Homo sapiens: one gene and its partner. The protein of the gene in region 1 interacts with the protein of each later gene in a biochemical or structural test. Each region holds a gene or a part of one and is shown in the gene's direction. Other genes may lie near its edges. The genes, in order: TRIM45 and UBE2B.

Region 1 (3,822 bases):
CTCCAGGCAGTTATGCTTATAGCTTATCATTCTCCCAGTTGGTTTCTTAGGATTCTTAATATGGAGAAGATGTCTTGATCACAGGGGGTGATCTGCCAGCAGACAACCATGCATATTCAAAAAATATAATCTAGCTCAGGATTTTCCAGTTTTGTCCAGACTGTGTCTGGACATGAACACAGTTGAGAGGGTTATGCCCCCTCCTCACAATTGACTAGTCATCTATCTGCCTAACCATCTGCTCATGTAATTTTCTACTCTGTTTTACATATAGGTTTTTCTGTTACTATGGTTCCTATAAACAAACAAATATACCAAACAAGTTACGTTACCATGGTTTCTACAAACAAGTATAACACAAGTAGAGCACTTTCTGCTTTAGAGAGTATGAGTTTTTAAAAATTGGGTGATACTAACAGGTCGAGCAGAATCTCTCTGCTGACATTGGAGTAGTCAGAGGTTTCCCTCCACAGAAATCAACACTGACAGGGACAGTAAAATACCATATAGCATCATGATATATTAGGCTTATGATTTGTGCACTAAGGAACATTCATATTTAATAGCCATTTATTGTTTACCTAATTATGGTATGTCAGGAACAGGTTAGGTGTTTTTACATACATTATTTCAATTTGCCTCAAAACCCTTCAGGCACAGGGATCAGTGTCCAATTAGACTGAGACACCAAACTTGCATTAAAATACACAGCAAATGTAGCAAAATAGGAATTTGAACCCATTTCTTTGAATGCCAAGTTGTTTTTTAACTGGATTGTAAACTCTTTAAGATGGGAAATTTAACATCTGAAAGACTTCTAAGGTGCTAGGTTCTCTGTTTTGCGTTTTCGCAAACAATGTGGCTCTCACATAAGGATAGGCACATTGCAACTTATTAAATATTTAAATTGGGCATGATGGTGTGCACCTGTAGTCCCAGCTACTTGGGAGGATTGCCTGAGCCCAGGAGCTCAAGGCTGCAGTGAGCTATGGATGTGCCAGTGCACTCCCGCCTGGTGACAGAGTGAGATCCCATCTTTAAAAAAATAAATAAATATTTTTTGTTTAACATGGGATATAAATTAGAGAACGAAAGTTATCCTTAAAGGAAAGGGGGCAGATGGGAGAGTTACTAATTTGAGAATTATTAGCTGTACACATTTTAACCTTTCTCCCTTCCATATGTCTTTACAGTCCCAGAATAAGTGGGTGAGTAAACAGATAAGTCATGTCCAGGATGGAAGGAAAGAGGCTAGCTTGGTATGTGAGAAGAGGTACATGGCTGAGAAATTGGAGAAGGGACCACAGAATGTCCTATCTTTGTGGTTGTGACATTCTACTTATTATACCTGAGGTTCCTTAAGAATTGAGATTGAGAATCCCAGAGAAAAGTCAGTCTGAGATTACTAATGTATTGAATGATCTAGGTACTTATACTTCATACAAGGATAGAGTGAGGCAGAATCCATCAAGAAAAGCTTAAGCTTATTGTGGCATGGGCTTCTGCTTTTGCTGCCATCTTGCCAGAACAATTATTCCCAGCTAATACAGATGTCACTGAAAATGGAGCTGACTGTGTGACTCCTTTCAGTGTCCAGCAGGTTCAGCTACATGGAATAAATCAGTACCTACGTCTAGTACTTAGCATCTGCGGTGAAAAGCATGGTAGGAGGGCTGCATAGACCCTGTGATGCTTCCACTGCATCTGTGTCTGCCTCCTCTCAGCTGAGCAGGGTTCTTGTCCTCTAATCTGTTTCTTTCCTGTTGTCCTTGTCCATCCAAGGACAGGCCCTGTGCCTCAGACTCTGTTTAGCACATAGTGATGCGCAGCACATCCTGTTAACTCGTAAGATGCTGTTCATTGCTTTTGGTCTGAACACTGCAGGGCTCGCCATTCACTGTGATGGTGAGGAGAAAGCACCGCCCACACTCAGGCGTGTTTCACTGCTGCACCTTCTGCTCCAGCGGGGGCCAGAAAACCGCTCGCTGCGCCTGTGGAGGCACCATGCCAGGTAAGGAGAAAGCACTACCCTCTGGGCCTTTCTGCCAGCAGTGGGAATCAAGCGACGGGCCCTTCCCTACCACACAGCCACTAGACATTTGGACTTAGGCTCTGTTTCTAGGAAGCACAGTCTGTGATTGTAGAGACACCACTGTTCTAAAAGTGTCACTTAAAGCTTCCTTGTTCTGAATTGAAATAGCAGACTTAAAAGCTCTCAGTTCTGTTAGTTTTGGTACAGCTCCTATGAGCCCTGTGCTTCTATGTAGGATTCTCAGTTTGTCTGTCCCTTTCCAGCGGCCTAAGCAGTGTGAAAACTATGGACCCATCTTATTCCTTTTAGAACCTTAAATAAATTCCAAATGAGGCATGGCTAGGGGAGTGGATGATTAAACCAATTGAACAAGGTCTGGGTCTTTCGGGGGACAGAAAGGATAGGGAGTCAGTTTAGGTTAGGGATCTAATTACTTTAAAAAAAAATTATTGTGTCCTTACTCTAATAATGGGCCATAAAATGGGCTTTTGCATCCTTCTGTATAAACACTTGAGGATCTACCTCTATTTTTTTAATGTCCACCAACCTATCCTTTTTTATTTCAATGATTTTACAGTTAAAATCCAAACCAATTTATTTTACAGTTAATGTGCAAACTAGTTCGCCTCCTTCAGGTGGTAAGTTCTATCACTACAGCATTCTTAGAACTCCGGCTAACATGAGTTGATTTGCTGTGATCAATTCTCAGGGTCCTCCTGACTGCACAACAGTCAGACAGCTTGTTCCTCTTGCCAAGATTTTCTTAGATATTTTCACTCCCATGAATCTGCATGTTGCCAGGAGGTCTAATTTCCATGATAATGGTAACTGCTGGCCTCCACGCTAATGGTTGATTTTTGTCCTTTCCTCTTTGTCCCATGTAGGTGGGTACCTAGGCTGTGGCCATGGACACAAAGGCCACCCAGGTCATCCCCACTGGTCATGCTGTGGAAAATTTAATGAGAAATCTGAATGCACATGGACAGGTGGGCAGAGCGCACCGAGGAGTCTACTTAGGACTGTGGCTCTCTGATGGGTTTGTGCTCAGCCTTTTAAAGCTGCAGGCAGCACCACTTGAGATTTCCAGAGGACCCAGACCTTCGTTCATTCTAAAGAGACTGATAGAATTAAAAACAAAGTGCCTTATCTTGCACTGGAGTTCAAGTGCTCTTTTGTTAGTTATTCACTGATTGTACTTGTGGATGGTTGAGCACAAAAAACCACCTCTACATTTCTCTTAAAGGTAGGTTGGCAACGTTCTTTTTCTACCACAGGATACTCCTTTTCATTTTGTACAGTATGGAGGTATCTATTCCATTGGCACTGAAGGGTCTAGGTAGTTTAGTTCCTTTCTGATATAACCCTTTTTTTTTCTTTTTTTTTTTTTTTTAAAGACAGAGTCTCACTCTGTCACCCAGGCTGGAGTGCAGTGGCATGATCTCGGCTCACTGCAACCTCTGCCTCCCGGTTCAAATGATTCTCGTGCCTTGGTGTCCCGAGTAGCTGGGATTACAGGTTCCCCCCCACCTTCCCCCACACCCAGCTAATTTTTGTGTTTTTAGTAGAGACGGGGTTTCACCATGTTGGCCAGGCTGGTCTCAAACTCCTGACCTCGTGATCCACCTGCCTCGGCCTCCCAAAGTGCTGGGGTTACAAGCATGAGCCACCACACCTGGCCTATTATGACCTTTTTCATTTTTCTCTGAGCTACACATTATTTAGATATTTCCCCTAGAGATTAGAAACCTCCTTTCATCCTGTCCACTTTTTGTTAGCATACTTTCATTGGA
Region 2 (3,822 bases), on another chromosome or scaffold:
ATAAAGTTTTCAAGGCTCATCTATGTTGTGATATAATAGTATCTGTGATTCATTTTTTATTGTTGAATAATATTCCACTGTATGGATATTCTGTATTTTGTTCATTAGTTGATAAGATATTTGAGTTCTGATTTACTTTTGGATTCTCAGAAATAGTTACTCAGAACTTTAAAATTGTTTTACACTTTTATGGGTTTTACAGAGTTACTAATTTTTGCTTTGGGCAGCTAAGTTTGATGTTTCTGTGGGATGGACAGTAAGTTGGCTTTGAAGCTGAGAGATAGATCTAGGCTAAGGCCAATGATTGGGAATACTGAGCACATGGATGGTAACTGAGGCCACAGGAGTCAATAGGATTGCCCAGTGTGTGTGTAAAGGGTAAGAAGGAAAAGGGCTTAGGATAGAGTCTGGAAGAATCACAGTGTTTAAGTGTGATTTGCTCCCCACTCTCTGTTATGGTTTGCTCCATGAAATGGTATCTGTAACATTTAAATGAATTTACTCTTTGTTTTACATAGCAGTTCACTTCTAGAAATTTTTTCTACAGATAGTCTCACAATTGGGCAAATACTTAACGTTCATTGCTTGTATTTTCACAGAATCAGTCTAAAAAGGGAAGAACCCTCCCAGATGTTCAGGACTTTTGATACCTGTTAGTCACTTGATTTTTTTTTTTAATGAAAGGAATATGTATACTCATTGCACAAATAAATCATAAACACAAGGAAGGATAAAGAAAATAAGATAGGCCAGGCACGGTGGCCCACGCCTGTAGTCCCAGCACTTTGGGAGGCTGAGGCAGGTGGATCACGAGGTCAGGACTTCGAGACTAGCCTGGCCAGCATAGTGAAACCCCGTCTTTACTAAAAATATAAAAAATTATCCAAGCATGGTGATGTGTGCCTGTAATCCCACCTACTTGGGAGGCTGAGGCAGGAGAATTGCTTGAACCCAGGAGGCGGAGGTTGCAGTGAGCCGAGATCACGCCACTGCACTCCAGCCTGGGTGACAGAGCGAGACTCCATCTCAAAAAAAAAGAAAAAGAAAAGAGGATCATCTGCTGGGGGCGCTGTGGCTCACACCTGTAATCCCAGCACTTTGGGAGACCGAGGTGGGCAGATCACCTGAGGTCAGGAATTCGAGACTAGCCTGGCCAACATGGTAAAACCCCATCTCTACTAAAAATACAAAAATTAGCTGGGTCGTGGTTGTACATGCCTGTGATCCCAGCTACTCGGGAGGCTGAGGCAGGAGTATTGCTTGAACCCAGGAGGTGGAGGTTGCAGTGAGCCGAGTTCTCACCACTGCACTCCAGCCTGGACAACAGACTGAGAATCCATCTCAAAAAAAGAAAAAAAAAAAGGGCCGGGCACAGTGGCTCATGCTTGTAATCCCAGCACTTTGGGAGGCCGAGGCAGGTGGATCACCTGAGGTCAGGAGTTCGAGACCAGCCTGGCCAACATATGGCAAAACCCCGTCTCTACTAAAAATGCAAAAATTAGCTGGGCGTGGTGGTGGGCACCTGTAATCCCAACTACGTGGGAGGCTGAGGCAGCAGAATCCCTTGAACCTGGGAGGCGGAGCTTGCAGTGAGTTGAGATTGCACCATTGCACTCCATCCTGGGCAACAAGAGCGAAACTCCATCTCAAAAAAAAAAAAGGAAAAGAAAATAAGATCATCCATAACCCTACTATTACAAATATCCACTACTTACATTTTGACATTCGGTCTTAGAAATGTTTTTTGACTACATATACTTTAAATGAATTTATATAAAACTTTTTAATCAAAATAGGAAATTATAAATAATTAAAAACTTATTTTTAAGGTAATAGTCTGTGGATGTCTTACTCTATAAACAGTAGATATGTATCATTTCTGGTGATTGTGTTGCTATTGCTTATATGAATGTATCAGTTGTTTATTTAGCCAGTTCCCTCTTTTATGGACCACAAGGTAGAATTAGTTTTTCACTTTTTTTTTTTTTTTTTTAAGATAGAGTCTCGCTCTGTCGCCCAGGCTGGAGTGCAGTGGCGTGATCTGAGCTCACTGCAACCTCTGCCTCCTGGGTTCAAGCAATTCTTCTGCCTCAGCCTCCTGAGTAGCTGGGACTACACGCATGCACTACCATGCCTGGCTAATTTTTGTATTTTTAGTAGAGACAGGGTTTCACCATGCTGGCCAGGCTGGTCTCGAACTCATGACCTCATGATCCACCCGCCTCGGCCTCCCAAAGTGCTGGGATTATGGGTGTGAGCCACTGCGCCTGGCCTTCTACTCTTATAAGTAGTATTATAGTGAACATCCTGTAAGTAAATCTTTGTGCATGTCCACGTTTATTTCCTTAATTTCTAGGAGTGTAATTGCTATGTCAAAAATAAGCAGTTTTTTAAAAGCTTTAAGAATATTTAGAAATACGGAATTTAAATAGATTGCTAAATGATGTGTGTTGAAGAAATTTAACTCAAAGCCTCCTGATCATAACATGCTGTCTTAGTTCATTTTCTGCTACAACAGAATAGCAGGGACTGATAATTTGTAAATTTGTAAATAATAGTAGTTTGTTTGGCTCATGGTTCTGGAGACTGGGCAGTCCAAGAGCATGGCGCCAGCACCTAAGCAAGGTCCTTGGTGCTGTGACATCCCATGGTGGAAGGCAGAATGACAAGTGAGCACACAAGACATAAGAAAAGGTGCCAAACTCATCCTTTTATCTGGAGTACACTCCTGCCCTGAGCACTCATGACCTAAGCACTTCTTAAAGGTCCCACTTCTCAACAGTGTTACAATGGCAATTAATTTTTTTTTATTTAATTTTTTTACTTTTATTTTTTTGAGACAGGTTCTTACCCTGTCATCCAGGCTGGAGTGCAGTGGTGTGATCTCAGCTCACTGCAACCCCTGCCTCCTGGGTTCAAGCGATTCTCCTGCCTCAGCCTTCCAAGTAGCTGGGATTACAGGCATGTGCCACCATGCCCGGCTAATTTTTATAATTTTAGTAGAGATGGGGTTTCACTGTGTTGGCCCGACTGGTCTCAGACTCCTGACCTCAAGCAATCCTGCCTGCCTCGGCCTCCCAAAGTGTTCAGGACTGGCGTGAGCCACCGTGCCCAGCCTCCAGCAATTACATTTCAACATGAGATTTGGAGGGAACATTCAAACCATAGCAGGTGCAAAATAAGAGACCTTAGTTTTAAGACAGGTTATCCTGTGATACAGAAGAATTTAGTTATTACCTAATATTTAAAACTTCTAAGCCAAGCATTCTGTTTGGTAAAGATTTCTCTTAACTGTTAGATATGGCAGAGTGTGTAACTAATTTTAGTATTGTCTTTGCAGTGTATGCTGATGGTAGCATATGTTTAGATATCCTTCAGAATCGATGGAGTCCAACATATGATGTATCTTCTATCTTAACATCAATTCAGGTAAGTGTGTGTTAGGATGTATTATAATTTGTCAGTATTCTGTAGGATATAGTCAGCTCCTTAGCACACAGGTAACCAATGGCAGAGCTTGGACAAGAATCCATGCTTTTCAGCTAACTTTTCTCTTTCAGTAGTGCCTACTTGGGATCCAGTCTGCAGTCCCTTTCCTGATTGTGTAAGTTACATGTTCTCACAGGTCAAACCTAATTTGTGTCCATGAAGCATAGCCAAGGGTTGTGGAAAAGAAAAAATGGCTTGGAAAAACCATAGGAACCTAAAGAAACTGCCAAGTGTAGATAAGCATTGAGTATGTTACCCCATCCAAGAAATTCTATTTTAAAAAAAGAAAGGAAAACTAATGTAACCATTTGTCGAAGCAGTCTGGCAGAATAT

Evidence for each region.
Region 2: the proteins of TRIM45 (region 1) and UBE2B form a complex in vitro, tested with the Homo sapiens proteins (one study listed by BioGRID).

The regions. Positions count from the first base shown.
Region 1 is NC_000001.11:117,111,548-117,115,369, reverse strand, and holds part of TRIM45 (E3 ubiquitin-protein ligase TRIM45), read left to right. Parts: intron 1-1,884; coding exon 1,885-2,011; intron 2,012-2,916; coding exon 2,917-3,065; 3' UTR 3,066-3,822. UniProt on the Homo sapiens protein: E3 ubiquitin-protein ligase that plays a role in the regulation of inflammatory response.
Region 2 is NC_000005.10:134,384,985-134,388,806, forward strand, and holds part of UBE2B (ubiquitin-conjugating enzyme E2 B), read left to right. Parts: intron 1-3,340; coding exon 3,341-3,429; intron 3,430-3,822. UniProt on the Homo sapiens protein: E2 ubiquitin-conjugating enzyme that accepts ubiquitin from the ubiquitin-activating enzyme E1 and transfers it to a E3 ubiquitin-protein ligase. In vitro catalyzes 'Lys-11'-, as well as 'Lys-48'- and 'Lys-63'-linked polyubiquitination.